2 separate regions of the Homo sapiens genome follow, and region 2 is linked to region 1. Evidence: fine-mapped expression QTL. Tissue or cell type: cerebellum. Region 1 holds a variant in brackets; the other region holds the start of a gene. All regions are shown on one strand. Distances are from middle to middle.

Region 1 (8,105 bases):
ATTTTAAATGATACTTCTTTATAATCTGAATTAGCCAGATTATAGTAGCACACTCCCAGATGCTGTGAGATATGTTATTTCAACATTTTTAATATTTACCAAAACTTTGTGTCATTGGAAACTCTTCACTTACTTGCTGCAAAATTATATATAAGAAACTACCAAGTTAAAATGCTCGCATATTTTGAATGGAGGCATAAAAAACAAAACTATAAATGAATTGTGAAAGGTCCAAATTTATTTTTATGTCTAATACAATGCATGAATATTGCAAATGCATATAGTTTCAAACTATTATGTTTATATAGGAAAGATTCACATTTAAGTTCAAACATTCCCTTCTCTAAGGGTCTTTCCTGAGCACTCAATTTAAAATAGTGCATCCATTTATAATTTTCCAACTTAACATCTTACTTTAATATATTGACTGAATTTATCACTATAAAAAGTATTAATATGTTTATAATTCGTTGTCGTTTCTTCCCGAAAATGTAAGCCCAGTGAGACCAGAGTCTTGGCTGTAGCTTTCCTAGTCACATACTTGGCGCTCAGTAAATATGTGTGGAAGGAAGGAAGGAAAAAAAGAAAGGAGGGAGGGAAGAAGACAGGCTGGACAGATAGACGGATGGTTGAGTGGAAGGATGGATGGACGGATGGAATACTTCTCAGGTAAAACTTCTTGGTTAATGAGAATTTTTATCTCATTTCAATTTTTAGTTCAGAATATTTAAACTAAAATAAAATAAATAAAAACAGTAAAAATAAATAAGTAAATTTGGAGCCTCTCACTCATTGTTGAGTGTCATTTAAGCTCCTACCAACTATTCTCTCTGAAATCACCACTGGAAATTCTTTTTGTCCCAATCATTCTGAATGTCACTTTTCCTGGAGCAAATCTGAGATGCCCTAAAAGTCTGAACAACTGAAATAGGTGAGTTCCTTCTCTATTCCTAGGAAGAATACCAGCGCCTCAGACACATTTTCTTTGTCTTAAGTACAGTCATGTGTCAGTTAACGACAGGGATACCTCTGAGAAATGCATCACTAAGCAATTTTATCATTGCGTGAACATCATAGAGTGGAATTACACAAACCTAGATGGCAGAGCCTACCTCACACCTATGCTCTATGCTATAGCCTATTGCTCCTGGGCAACAAACCTGCACAACATGTTACTGTACTGAATACCTTAGGCAACTGTAACACAATAGCAAGTATTTGTGTATCTCAACATAGCTAAACATAGAAAAAGTACAGTAAAATTATTGTATAGAAGATAAGAAATGGTACACCTGTATAGGGCAGCTCCGTTATAATCTTTTGAGACCGCCGTTGTATATGTGGTCTGTCATTAACTGAAATGTGGTTATGTGGCCTATGCTTGTGCTAACATGTATCATTTTAAGAAACGACTACGTTATGAGTCACTCTTTACATAATTGTCAGTGTGAGAAGGATTTTCAGGGCCAGATTTCAGATTTGATGCTGTTAATCAGTTTCTCTGCAGCCACCAAAATGTCTGTGAGCTCATTTATGTCTGTGGTGGTGACGAATCTAACCTTACAGTTGTCACAATCAGACATTTTACCACCTCTCAAACCAAAATTTCCAAGAGGATCCCAAGGCCCTTTGCTAACTGCAAAATAAACAGACTCCCCTGCCCCCTTCTGCCCCAGCCCCGACCTCTCTCCCTTCCCAAGCAGATACTACCTGGGTGGTAAAAATCTTCTGTTTTCAGGTCTTTAGCAAGGGGAAGTGGGGGAGGAGGGAAGCTCTTTTGTGCATGTTTAGAGTTTGGCCAAGTGGGTAAGTGGGTATTAAGTGTAATTGTAGAGTTTTATGGAACTTAAGAAGTCCCGGATAACACATTTTAAATATCCCTTGCTACATCTGCAGAGTCTTGAATTAGTAGGTAGAAACCACAACATTATGAGATCCCACTGGGTGTCTCATGGCCCTTCAACCTCCCAGGGCCCTCCTGACAAAAGAGCTCAGTGTGGACTTTTGATCTGAGTTTAAGATCAGGTAAGCCCCAGCCCCAGCCCTACCCCTAACAACAGCCCCTGGGTTCTTTCACGAACACCTACAAGAGCTTTGCTGACCCCATCTCTGGCTGAATCTCAGTAGCCTCCCTATCAATTCTCAAAGAAGATGTGGAGCAAAAGTTAGATGAGAAGTCACCATAGAATGTACGGGATTGGTTGGGATTCTGCCTGTCCTATTTCTGAACCCAGCTTTCTTCAGAATGTGTGAGAAACTTCCAGTAGGAAAAGAATTAACTATTTAGTTAATGATGCCAGTACTGTAACTGGGTATGCAACCAAAAGAAAATTATGTTAGATTCCTCTCTACTTTGAAAATACGTGAAAAAAAGGAATGAAATTTCTTCAGGAAAATCTAGGTGAATTTATGCATATGCTAGAACATAAAAATTATTGAGAACATAAAATGAACTCAAGAAACCTTGAGTGGTAGAGACCTTTTTAGAGACAATCTTTTTAATCAACAACTAGAATCTATAAAAGAAAAGAAAGGCCGGGCACAGTGGCTCACACCTCTAATTCCAACACTTTAGGAGGCCAAGGCGGGTGGATCACTTGAGGTCAGGAGTTTGAGACCATCCTGGCCAACATGGTGAAACCCCATCTCTACTAAAAAATACAAAAATTAACCAGGCCTAGTGGCACATGCCTGTAATCCCAGCTACTCAGGAGGCTGAGGCAGGAGAATTGCTTGAACCCAGGTAGCAAAGGTTGCAGTGGGCCTGGATTGCGCCACTGCACTCCAGCCTGGGCAACAGAGTGAGACACCATCTCAAAAAAAAAAAACGTATTTGAATATATAAAAGTTAAAATACTTTCTGACAAAAATACCATAAACAAGGTCAAAAGACAAGCTTTGATCTTGAAAATTAATCTTTGCAACTCAAGAAAATCAGAGGTTGAAAATCTGTAATACAAATTTCAAAGAGCTCTTGCAACTTGAAAAAAAGAGGAGATACAACCCTGGGAAAACTGGTAAAGAATATGAAAAAGTTGGTCAGAGAAGAACAAATTCAAATGATTGATAAACCCATTAAAAAATGTCAACTTTTCCAGTGGTGAAGGAAATGAAAACTAAGGTAACAATGATATATCACCTTATAACGATCAAATTGCCAAAAATTGAAGAGTTATTTATTTTTGGAGGGGACATAAGTAAAAGGATGCTTTCATGCATTGTTGGTAGAAACATGCATGAAAGCAATTTTATAGCCTTTCAGGGGGGAATGCAATCCACAATATAAACTAAAATTTTTAAAACCCCTATACCCTTTAGCCCATAAAGTTATCTCATAGAAACAAAAGCACTAATATTCAGTACTTTTGTAATAACAGGTAATATTTATTGAGCCCTTATTATGGGCCAGGTATTTTTGCAAAGGCTCAACATGAATTACATAACCTAGTATAATCCTCTATTTTACAAATGAGGAAACTCATACCCATAGAGGTTTAAACTTGCCCAATACAAGAGCTAGTAAGTGACAGAGGTAGGGAGCAATCACATGCAGTCTGACTCTAGAGTGCAGACTTTTTTTTTTTTTAGACAGAGTCTTGCTCTGTCACCAGGCTGGAGTGCAATGGCACGATCTTGGCTCACTGCAACCTCCACCTTCCTGGTTCAAGCGATTCTCCTGCCTCAGCCTCCTGAGTAGCTGGGACTACAGGCGCCCACTATCACACCCGGCTAATTTTTGTATTTTTAGTAGAGACGGGGTTTCACTATTTTGGCCAGGCTGGTCTCAAACTCCTGACTTCATGATTGGCCCGTCTCGGCCTCCCAAAGTGCTGGGATTACAGGCGTGAGCCACCGCGCCTGGCCTAGTGCAGACTTTTAAAAGCTATGCTGGACTGCCGCACAAAACACCCAGGTGTGTTTATTTCAGCATTGTTTGTAAAGACACAAACCTAGAAGCAATGCAAATGTCCATCGGCAGGGGAATGGTTAAATGTATTACAGCAGATCCACACTGCACAGTCATATGAGGCATAAAAAAGACTGAATTAGAACCTTACCAGGTGATAGAGAAAGATTTCCTCAAGATATTGTTGAGAGAAGAAAAGCAGAAAAGCATGAAAAACGCAATTCAAAAACTGAAAAATAGTAACCCCAAGCCTGTGTGTATGTAGCTAGAGATATGTAAATATAAATATATTAGTATGTGATTATATGATTCAGATAAAAAATATGGAAGGGCACATTTTAGATTATCAATATGTGTCACAGGAGATGAGCCGAGGTAACAGGAGCCAGCCATGCCAGGAGAAGCCAAAGTCTATATAAAAATTACATCTGTGGGTAAAAAATAAATAAATCTCTTACAGCCAAGATGCCATTTGGTAAAAATGTCTTAGCTTAATTATTAGTGGTAAACAAATGTCTTAGATATGCATTCATCAATGCACTATTCTTATCACCTAAGGACTTGATGCTGGGTTCTACAAACTGTTCTACACATGAGCTCCTGGCATATTGTGAATGCCTCATGTATATGGTACAACTATGCTCACCCTACCCTGGGTCTCTTCCCTTCTTTATCTCTTTTTCCATTTATCCCCCCTTTACTCAGCACAGACCTCTTTACTAATTCCCTACTGTCTACGAAATGGAGTCTGGACTCCTCGGATTCTCAGGACAGCCAAAGCACGAGGACCACCTGCCTTGAGACACCATCTGCCTCTCCCGGGCAGCTCCTCCTCTGCCCTCCCCACGCTTCCTTAGGCTTTGCTCTGCTGCCCAT[A/C]TGTGCGCGATTGTTTCTTCTGTTCTTCTTCTCTCATTTACATGGGCGCAAATTTCCTACCCTGAAAATCCACTTAAAATACTGTGTAGTTCATTCATGATTTCTTCATGATTTCCTGCACCTTCTCAAGACAAATATGTTCATCTTCTCTTGAATTATTTTTTTATTATTATTATTCTACTTTAAGGTTTTTTTTAAAAAAAACACAAAGGTTTCCAAACCCTTTTAGCTGGAACCTTGTTCTCCAATCTAGAACAGACGAAAGTGAAGCCTTGCCTCTGGCAAGGAGGGGTGCCTGGTTCACTGAGCCCCTCAGGCTCTTCCTCCTCCCCATCTCTATGCTTCTGTGCAAAATAGCTTGAGAAAGCACTGCTCTAATCTACTGTCTGCGTCTCTCCTTCCATCCCTCCCTGGCCACTTTGTGTTAGCTTTTAAACTGGATCAGGGCAACATCTTATTGTTCAGGTTTGCCCTCTGCAGCCAGCGTGGTTTCTGGCATGGAGGCAGCACCCTTCAGGTCCTGAGGCAGGTGCCACACAGCAAAAGGCAAACCCAGGTTTCATGCCTGCTCCAACTCTCAGTAGAACCTGGGCAGCTTTCTTAACCTATCTGAGTCTCAGCCTCCTAGTTCACCAAAAGGACATAAGAGTGCCTGATGTGGTTTGACGGATGCGTCTCTCAGAATTCATATGTTGAAACTTAATCACCAACGTGATGATATTAAGAGGTGGGGCCTTTAAGAAGTGATTAAACGATGAGGGCAGAGTCATGAATGGGAGTAAGGCCCTTATAAAAGGCCTTGAGAGAGTGAGTTTGCCCACTAGGTACAGTAGCACCACCACGATCACCCCCAGCTGTCACAACCAAAAATGTTTCCAGACATTGCCACAATTCTCCTAGGAGGCAAAATCACTCTGTTGAGAATCACTGTTTTCATGATGGAAGACTGGAAAAAGAAAAGGTTAAGCAAAATTTTTGCAGGATTAAAAGTATTTCTGTAGGCCTAGAGTTTTAGGAAAACATTTTCAGCCTTGGAATACGTCATGGCTGCGGGTTGAATATATGTGTTTTTCCAAAATTCATAGGTTGAAACTTAACCCCCAAGGTGATGGTATTAAGAAGTCAGACCTTGGCTGGGCAAGGAAAGTCATGCCTGTAATCCCAGCACTTTGGGAGGCCAAGGCGGGTGGATCACCTGAAGTCAGGAGTTCAAGACCAGTCTGACAACATGGTGAAACCCCATCTCTACTAAAAATACAAAAATTAGCCAGGCGTGGTGGCACATGTCTGTAATCCCAGCTACTCAGGAAGGCTAAGGCAGGAGAATCGCTTGAACCTGGGAGGCAGAGGTTGCAGTGAGCCTAATTGCATTGCACTCCAGCCTGAGCAACAAAAGCAAAACTCCATCTCAAAAATAAACAACAACAGAAAAAGAAGTGAGGCGTTTGGGAAAGTGATTAAGTCATGAGGGCTCCACCTTTGTGAATGGGATCAGTCCCCCTATAAAAGAGGTTGAAGGGAGTGGCCTAGTCCCTTTTGCTCTTCCCATTCTGCCATTTGAGGATACCGCAAGGTGTCCATCTTAGAAGCAGAGAACAAGGCCTTACCAGACCCTGAATCTTTTGGCACCTTGATCTTGGATTTCTCAGCCTTCAGAGCTGTGAGAAATAAATTTCTATTATTTATAAATTACTCAAGCCATGGTATTTTGTTATAGCCACAGGAATGAACTAAGACACTCACATATTAGACTTCTCTGATTATTGGACCAGCATAACTGAACCACACACTTTAGTTTTCAAATGTTGGCAACTGAAGAACTTACTTTAAGTAATGACCTTCAAGTAATGACCAGGTGAGTCTCGGTGCAGTTAGTCCACTGAGTTCATGTCCTGATTCCCTGCTAGTCCATCCAGAAGAGAATCTCCCAGATGCTGTTATCATTTGCTTCCCAAGACAGTTGCCTCCTGGACTGAGTCAGAGGGAAAAGCTTAGATAGAAGCCACACCTCTGTCTCCAGCCATAAGCGGGCTGCTGGAAGGATTCCCACAGAGTTGCCATGGGCTCTTCATGAAGGCTGGAGGTTAGCTATGGCCCTGGCGTGCTCTCACCTGCCCCACAACAGCCACCTCACCCTCCAAGCAGGCCTGCAGCTGCGCAGGAGTTCTAGACACCATGCCTCAGTCCTCCCACAGGCCAAGAGGGAAAAATTACAAAGCAAACCACTGGTGGGGATGCCAGGGCCTACACCAAACCCCCTATTAGCTGTGGAGACAGGAGACTAGCCTGTGGCCAAACCCTGAACTCAGCCCACAAGAATGTGCACGGAGCACAGGGAATGACAGCAATGCTGGCCTTGGTATAAAAGCCAGGAGCAGGGAAATTTGATTGTGCCAGGAGGACAGGGAGCTGCAGAGAATCAAAACTCTGCTTCCCTAATATTTATTCCAAAAACAGCTCCGTGGTGGGGATGTTATTGCTGGCACTTCCGCCTACTCTTTGTACTGTGTGTTCTCTTTCCAAAGGTAGTTCTGCTTGTTTGTTTGTTTGTTTGTTTTGAGATGGAATTTCGCTCTTGTCCCCCAGGCTAGAGTGCAATGGTGCGATCTTGGCTCACTGCAACCTCCTCCTCCCAGGTTCAAGCAATTCTCCTGCCTCAGCCTCTCAAGTAGCTGGGATTACAGGTGTGTGCCACCAGGCCCGGCTAATTTTTGTGTTTTTAGTACATAAGGGGTTTCTCCATGTTGGCCGGGGGGGGTCTCGAACTCCTGACCTCAGTTGATTCACCTGCCTCGGCCTCCCAAAGTGCTGGGATTATAGTCATGAGCCGCCATGCCTGGCCTTGCTCGTATTTTTAAACACCAGCATCAAACAGCCCTGAAAACTGCTCTTTCTAGGAGCTTGGCTTTGTGGGGCCGCTAGAAGGATGCAAGGCCTTTGAGGAGACAATGTCAGAAGAGAGAGAAATCTTGAATTATAAGAGAGAGCAAAAAGTGGATGGAAGAAGAGCCCAGAGGAGGCAGGGAAAGACAATAGATAGCCCAAGTGAAGACATTAGCTTTGAAAGAGAGTCAGCCCCAGCAGGAGAATTGCTTGAACCCGGGAGGTGGAGGTTGCAGTGAGCAGAGATCTCGCCATTGCACTCCAGCCTGAGCAACAAGAGGGAAACGCCATCTCGAAAAAAAGAAAAGAGTCAGCCCCTTTTTCCTTGAGATCGAGGGAAATAAATGGCAAGTGTAGATTGCAGATGTACTTACTAATGAGAGAGGCGCCGAAAGCAAGAACCAGAGGGAGGGAGAGGCTGGTGATATGAGGGGGATTA
Region 2 (8,105 bases), 410 kb before region 1:
CATGTGCATACTTAATTAAAACAAATCCCAGGTACACTTTAATACAAAGTGAAATTCAAAATTAAAATCAATACCTTTTACAATAGTACCAAAAAAATGAAACTCTTAGAATCTACATGGAAACTCTTAGAATCTGTGTAGAATTTGCATACTGAAAACTTCAACTACTGATGAAATAAATCAAAGGAAACCTAAACAAATGCAGAGAAATGCTAAGTTTGTGGGTTGAAAGGTATTCAGAAATTGGAAGATTGTTAAAATGTCAGTTCTTCTGATATTCATCTATAAATTTAACACAACTGCAATCAAAATCCCAGTGGGAATTTTTTTGTAGATATTGACAACCATTTCTAAATTCATATAAAAAGGCAAAGAAATGAAAATAGCCAAAATAATGTTTAAAAAGGACAGAATTGGAGGGTTCACACTACCTGATTTTAAGGCAGTATACATCTACAAAATAGTGTACTATTTGTAAAACAATAGAAAGACAGATCAGAGGCACAAAACAGAGAATATAGAAAGAGACCCCTACAAATCTAACCAAGCGATTATTGAAAAGTTGCGAAAGCGATTCAATCAAGAAAGGATCTTTTCAATAAGTGGTGCTAGAAGAATTGGACATCCCATGTGCAAAAACAAGCCAACAAATAAAAAAGTCACCATCCATAGCTCACACCTAAAAAATAATAAGAATTCAAAATGAACCAAATACTTAAGTGTAAAATGTAAAATCTTGAAACTTATCAGCAAAACACAACTCTTTGTAACCTTGGTTAGTCAAAAGAGTTCTTAGATATACCAAAAGCATGATCTCTGAAAGAAAAAGTTGATACATTGAACTCCATCAACTTTAAAGACATTTACTCTGTGACAGAAACTACTAAGAGAATGAAAAGACAAGCCACACATGGGGAGGAAATATTCAGAAAACTTATCTGACAAAGACATTGTATCTAGAATACAGAAAGAACTCTCAAAAATGAACAATATAAAAGCAAACAACCCACTTAAAAATGAGCAAAAATTTTGAGCACTTTACTACAAATGATAGACGGATGGAAGAGAAGCACAAAAGTAGATGCTCACCATCATTAGTCATTAGGAAAGTCCAAATGACAATCTTGTATTATTGGCTACAATTTGCTCCTGTGCAGAGACTATGTGAGATAGCTTCAACAGCTCGGTCTTTTTCCTCCCCTAGTTATAGTGCGTTCACTTCCGACATTATGTTGAAGGCCTATCCCCAAAGATAAAGCCCCGGATTGGTTCAAGTTATCGTTTTCTCAGCATTGTAGGGACCATTTGTGAATGGTGCTCTGTTTGCTAATCTTTATCTGCATGTGGCCTGAGATGAGCAGGTGAGCAGGCATGTCACCCCCTCCCTGGGTCCTCCTGGGCCTCGAGTTACAAAAGGTGGAAGATTCGGTTGCATGGGCATTATGATAATACAGGTGTTTGTATATGCATCTCAAAACCTTCAACATTCACTTTACGCCATTATATAAGGTTAGTATTAGGAGGGACGCACTGGGACTGTGACTTATTATTTATAACAGTATTTTGAGTACATTAGAAACTTAATAAATATGACTACTAGGATGGCTTTAAGATTCATGCCATGTCTTTTCCTTTCTCCACCAAATACTCTTCTCTTTAAGGTTAGGGCAGCTGACATCTGTAAACTCCAGATTCAAGGTCTTCTGCTTGAAACAAGACTTAAGGAAATTACAGAACTAACATAGCCTTTTTGCTTTCTTCTGTAAAATAGGATCATGCTACCCAGACTACAGGGGGACTGTTAGGAATAACAAACAAAACAGGCCAGGCATGGTGGTTCACGTCTGTAATCCTAGCACTTTGGGGGGCTGAGGCAGGAGGATTGCTTGAGCTCAGGAGTTCAAGACCAGCCTGGGCAACTTGGCAAAACCCCATCTCCACTAAAAATACAAAAAACAAATTAGCCAGGCATGGTGGCACACACCTGTACTCCCAGGTACTCGGGAGGCTGAGGGGGGAGAGTTGCTTGAGCCTGGGAGGCGGAGGTTGCAGTGAATGGAGATTGCACCACTATACTCCACCCTGGGCATTGGAGTGAGACCCCTCACAAAAAATAAAAATAATAAAAATAAAAGGGGACAATACACAGGAGTCTGTATATGCTGCCATTGCACCTGACATGTAGAAGCTGCTCTACAAGGCTTCTTTATCTACTCAGGATGTGAAACTTTGTGTACTGCTATTTTAATATCTTTTGTCTTCAGTATAAAAAAAGCAACTCCTCAGGGGAGGATAAAGCACACCACAAGGATTGCTACATCAATAACCTCTATGAGAGATGTGGACTTGTCAAGTCATCTCCATGATGGATAGAACAGAGAGCAAACATCTCTGAGCCAAGTTGATGCTGATTCACTGAAAATAATGAGGTGAACATCCTGGCAATTAGTTGAGGTAAAAAAATTATCCTTTATTGTGGTTTGGTGACATTGTGCTAATTTAGAAACCATGGATGCTGGTTTATGTGAAAGTTTTTGTTTTCTTTCAAGTCTCTGGTTGGAAACATCACATGGTTGGTTGCTGTTGCTGTTTACTGCCACAGCCTGTTCAAGTCTATTCTCGGAGAGTTTTCTTCATATAGGAGTTGGTACTAATCCAAGTGTAAAATCCGGAGAAATGTGTGCACAGCTTTCTGTGTGGATTCTTAGCTAAGGTTTGAAAATGGTCTGCTTTGAGCTCATCTGACCAGAAGATCTGACTGCTGTCAGGCAAAGAAAAGGGTCTGTCAGGAAAGGACTGGGCACCCCAAGTGGAATACGGAAAGAGAAGGGCTGTGCCTCCTTGCAGAAAAGAGCACAGCTGGTGAAGCTGCCTTCACATCGTCCAAAGTTTCCAGTTCTGGAAAGTTCCAGTTGTAAGAGTGAAATCAATGCCAAGAGGCAGGTCAGTGGAATGAGAGGCACTGAGAAACTAGCCACTGTGGGTGGAAGGGGAAGGAGATTTGGTTTTGACAAGTCCGTACTCAGGTCTTCAGTAAGGAGTTCTGAAGTCAGGGTGAAGCCTTTGTTTATTCTAGAGGAGGCGGAGTTTGGGGTCTGGGAAAGAAGATAACTTCTCAGAAAGTGAAAAAAAGCTCATGTAGAGGATGCTGGGCAAAATAATGGGAAGGAATAAATCAGCATTGTAGAGAATGTGGTTGGATCATAAAATCCCAGGCTATAGAGATTATGTGCTCAAAGCCTCTGCATTTTATGTGAACACACACAAACCAAATGTCGACCAGATGCACAAAAATGTGCATACATGGAGCAGCCAACCACCAATAGTAACCAGCATTTCACTTCTCTTTGCATCTCAGTTGGCTGTACCTGGAAGGGTCTAGACTTTGCCTCCTTCTCGTTCTAGCATTCTGACACTGTGTGCAGTGTAATAGAAAACGCGGTTTGGGAGCTAGGTTTGCCCAACAATAGATATTCTGGGGTGATTTTCATCCTTTGCATTTGTCATTACGATGTTTTGTGTGCTTGTGCAAATACAGGACGGTTCCTGAAATGTGTCTCTGAGCGTTCTTAACTGTGTGTAAGGTAAGCGAGGAAAGTGTCTAAGACAGAGGCCAAGAACACCTGTCACAGGGTACCCGCCTAGAGTGTCTGTACCGCATCCTTTCTGCTACACTGTTTGCACACACACAAAAGGGCCGAGGAGCCAGGGTTGGTGTTGGATATGCCCAGTACGCGTGCTGGGTGTTGGAAGGATGGGGCCGGCGGTAACAAGAATCGATATATATTTACCGCGGGGGCGGGGGTGGGGGTGCGCGGAGGCTGCAGGGCGGGGCAGCGCTAATGAGAGCAAGCCCGGCTTGTGGTTGGTTCTGGAGTCTGGTACCCACAGAGGAGCAGGCAGGGAGGGAGGGGATGCAAGCGGGAGGATAAAGCGATGAAGTGTGCTGCGTTACCGCGCATCAGGCGCTGTTGTTGGAGCCGGAACACCGTGCGACTCTGACCGAACCGGCCCCCTCCTCGCGCACACACTCGCCGAGCCGCGCGCGCCCCTCCGCCGTGACAGTGGCCGTGGCCTCCGCTCTCTCGGGGCACCCGGCAGCCAGAGCGCAGCGAGAGCGGGCGGTCGCCAGGGTCCCCTCCCCAGCCAGTCCCAGGCGCCCGGTGCACTATGCGGGGCACGTGCGCCCCCCAGCTCTAATCTGCGCGCTGACAGGAGCATGATCTGTGCCCAGGCCAGGGCTGCCAAGGTAAGCGGGCGTAGCGCGGGGACACTGTCTGCCGCCCCTTCCCCCCCGCCCTTCTCTGGGCGGCTTCCCCGCCGCACGCGAGGCCCCGGCAGCGCCCTCCCTTCTCGGGGCCGAGATCCACCCTCCTCCCCACCCTCTCGCTTCTCCCGCGAGGTTCAATTGTCAGCCTGGGTCGCGCCGCCGCCCGGTCCGGGCCGGCATCCCCGGGTGGCGACCCCGGCTTGGGTACTGCAGGCGCACCCGGCCCTCCTGCGGGGTACGGAGAGAAACAAAGAAGCCCCCAAGCGGGTTCGCAGCGCCTCCCCCGCCCCTCAGCGCCCTCCCAGTGGCGAGGAGGTGTCAGGGGAGGGGGCGGAGAGACCTACGTAATCCCCCTTCCCAGCCCACACCCACCCCTTGTGAACCAAAGCTCTGGATTTGCGCTTCGCCTTGGGCTCGCTTTTGAACAATTGTGTCCCATGCAATGCCCGTGGTTAGCCCAGAGAGCGCCCAGAGCCTCCGCACGGGCTCGCCGGTGCTCGCTCGAGGGGCGCGTGGCCAGGTCCGGCCCTTGCTCCCATGGACGGGTGCAGGAGGGGAGGAGGCGCTGTGTGGGTGCTCCCCCAGCGCCTCCCTGTTACCGGCCGGCTGCGCCGCTCAGCCGGGCCTGCCACCTGAGTTTTAGCGGGAGCAGTCATGTCGCCTACCGTATTGCGACTTGCAGACAGGCAGGGAGGGAGCTGCCGGGGCGGGGAGGGGGGGGGAATGCGTCCGGTCCATTTTTGGCTGGAGGTGCGCTTCCTGCTACCCCCACGTTCCCGGGCGGTGACAATGCAGCAAAATCCGAGGGCTCAAACAATGTGGCCCCTCCATCCCCGGCTCCAGGGCATTCTGATTGCTCTGCCGCTTTGACGTCCCGGCCACTTGGCTGATTTTCAGAGCCATGATGCGCGGTGTCTCTGTCTTGCACACAGAGGCTGGGCACCATAACTTCTTCCCTGCCGAATTTCAGCGCGTAGGGGGAGCTGGCAGGGACACAGGCTGCAGAGATGCCCGGCTTCCTGTGGTTCCGGGCACAGCGCGCCTCAGTCTGCATTGGGCTGACACCAGAGAGCATGTGGGGATTTTCCTAGTTGCCGAAGAAGATATTATTTGACGTTGCTGTAGTTTTGTGCTTACTTCTCTTGGAATCTGCAGTGGTGCAATTCTCCCCTTGTTTTCCCCCCTTCTCTTTGAAAAGATATCAATGCTATGTTCAGCAGAAACGGATACAGCAAGAGCAGCATAGTTCAAAAATTGAGGGAGGCATCTTCTCTCTTTTCCTGGGATTTAAACGCGATTTAGGAGGGCAGATGCCCTACCCGAAAAGGCCAACCGTTAAAGACCCCGGCAGTGTTGTGGTCCAAGGCGTCTCAAAGCAGGTGGCCAGATCTGCGTTTCTCATCAGCAGACTCACTCCGGCTGTGGCTATTACGGTAATTCATTCTAGATTGGGGATTCATTTAAAAATGTGTGTTTTCCACTAAGAAGGGATTAGAGTCCACATGCCCACCCTGGTATGAATGTGTGTGCCTGTTTGGTAGAGAGATAGATTGTGGTAGAATTCCCTGTTGGTAGAATTCCCTGTTGCCTGTTCCCTCCGCTTGCTGCTTCCTCTGGAATGTGGCATTGGAAAAACAAAGCACTATTTTAATTCCTAGACCTCCAGGCAAATTGGCCGTTCTAGTGTTTTATTTAATAATCCACGTTCTGACTAATTCCACACTATAATCCCAGTCTAGTGCAGTTGGCTGCTTTGTGGAATGACAGTTCTCTTTTTTTTTGGAGTAGTTTTTTCATGAAGGCAAATTGCCTAAGTTTGTTTAGATTGTGACATTATTGACTTGATAGGGAGGTCACATCCGGAGCTGGAACAGCCCATCAATGTATCAATACAGAGGGACTGCAGCTCTGTTATTTGTGTATATAGCATCATTTGACTTGATTCCTTTTACACTCTGGCTTTTAAAGATGGATGTATTACAAGATCACTTTGAGCTTTACCTTCTATTATGCTTCCATCTGATATGATTGTTAACAAAAGAAATATTAAAAGGCCAGATGTGATATGGAAAGACAAGCCTGAGTCTCATTCCTCATGGTAAAGGAAGTTGGACTGGCTGGTTTCTATCGTTCTTTCTAGTTCCAGCATTCTGTGGTAACTGACAGAGGAGTAAGAAAAGTTACCCAGTGTTGGAAAGGCAAATAATTATAACGTGAACCATGCAAGCAAACCAAGGATTGACTGTAGAATCTGCGGCTTATTTTTATACCTTGCAGCTTTTAAAACCCAAGCGTCTGCATTTTCCCCATAAGTGAAATTACTCACCAACTCAAACAGGTCTTTTTTTTTTTTTTTTGTCCACTATAGCAAAACATTTGGTGGAGGGTTGGGGAAAAGAGAAGAAGATTGAATTAATTGGATAACAGGTGTTCTCCTTTTGTGGAGTTATTCATTCCAACCCCATCTTAGATAATTGAGAATTCACTTTTTCCAATCATTGGTTTTTGTTTGTTTCTAATGAGACACTCTAGATAGCTGTTTCATCCTATGCAGTAATTGACAATGGCATGAGACTTACTTTCTCTGATGTAATTTGGTGTTGCTCTCAAAACTTGCTAGCGCTGTTGCTTGTCACAAAAATGGGTGAAGCAATGATTGGTCTAAATAGGCAGGCAGGCAGTGTTTTCATGCGCTATGGTAATTTTTATAATTTAGGTATAGTCAAGGTATTTGTTGATTCATGCTTAGCCACACAATTTTCCGTAGTTGTGCACTCATTTGTTTTAAGTTACAATCAAAATAATATCCTGAAATTACAGTCCCTGCAAGGCATAATTAACCACTTCTTCTCCTGTTTTCCCATAGCCTTTTTGTTCATAGAGCTAAGATAGCACTTACAATATTGCAGTTATCTGAGTTGTAAATGTGCCACAGTCTCCTTATCTTAAATATGGGATGAGCTTCTTCAGAACAAGGACATGTTTATATTCATCTCTCCAGCACCTAGCAGTTTGCCTGGTACATCATGTGTTCTCAGAAATGTTTATTGAGTGGATTTCAGGTCATAAAAATGCCCTCTAATTGTATAGGCAGGAGGTAGGTAGGAATCCTTCACTTTGTGAGTCAGCTGGGGGAATCAGAGAGGTTATGTAAGATGCTTAAGGGGGAACCGAGAGCCAGGACTCAAATCCAGGCCTTCCACCACCCACCCTCAGTAAACAAAAAAACACGTAGAGAATGAGTTCAAATGCTGTAGGTTTTGGTTATTTATTTTTTTCCTTGAATGATCTGGATTATCCATTTTGACAAAATTTATCTGATAACTGCTCTGTTCTGTCTTGCTCTGGCCTTAGAAGGAAACATGGCCCAAGCACTTTAACCTCTAATCCACACTTAAACAGAAGACGTGAGCACCCTTCTGCCCACTTTCTCTCTAAGTCCTGGTTCTATCAACCAGAGCTTGCTAGGATGATGGACACGTCTAGGGAATGTCTACTCATTATTTGCTCAAGCAACATTGAACCACTGTAAGTGCTTCTGAAATGACCTACAGTTAGACCAGAGACAACCATCCTTCCTGGGCCAGCCAAGCTTGACTGAGTCTCCCAATGGCAGGTTTCTAGACTAACAGGTGTGACTTACAGACATCAAGACACCTGCTTCTCTCCCATTTACCTGCTTCCTTTTCCATCCTAAAAAACAGGACAAGCTACATTAGGAAACCAGGAAGTTGCAATACCCACATGTCCTCTCTGTAAAACAGCCGTTGGCACATTTGATGTTCACGGACTTTTAGAGAAAACAGTATGAAATGCTCTGTGGGGTTTTCTTCAG

Alleles and levels. Alleles are on the strand shown, and positions count from the first base shown. SD is a standard deviation of normalised expression in the study named.
As copies of C replace A in region 1, the expression in cerebellum of the gene that starts at base 3,959 in region 2 goes up (small effect, 0.29 SD a copy in GTEx).

The links. PIP is the estimated chance that this variant, and not a neighbour inherited with it, causes the effect.
Region 2: HECW1 starts here. The variant in region 1 is fine-mapped to the expression of HECW1 in cerebellum (GTEx, PIP above 0.99).

What each region holds. Positions count from the first base shown.
Region 1 is chr7:43,515,680-43,523,784 of GRCh38, forward strand. All of the region lies in intron 24 of HECW1 (HECT, C2 and WW domain containing E3 ubiquitin protein ligase 1), which reads left to right. LUARIS (lncRNA upregulator of antiviral response interferon signaling) reads right to left here and starts at 6,863. Exons shown (of 3, transcript NR_038276.1): 1 at 6,609-6,863. The variant A/C (reference allele first, on the strand shown) is at 4,784.
Region 2 is chr7:43,108,689-43,116,793 of GRCh38, forward strand. HECW1 (HECT, C2 and WW domain containing E3 ubiquitin protein ligase 1) reads left to right here and starts at 3,959. Exons shown (of 30, transcript NM_015052.5): 1 at 3,959-4,249; 2 at 5,469-5,703.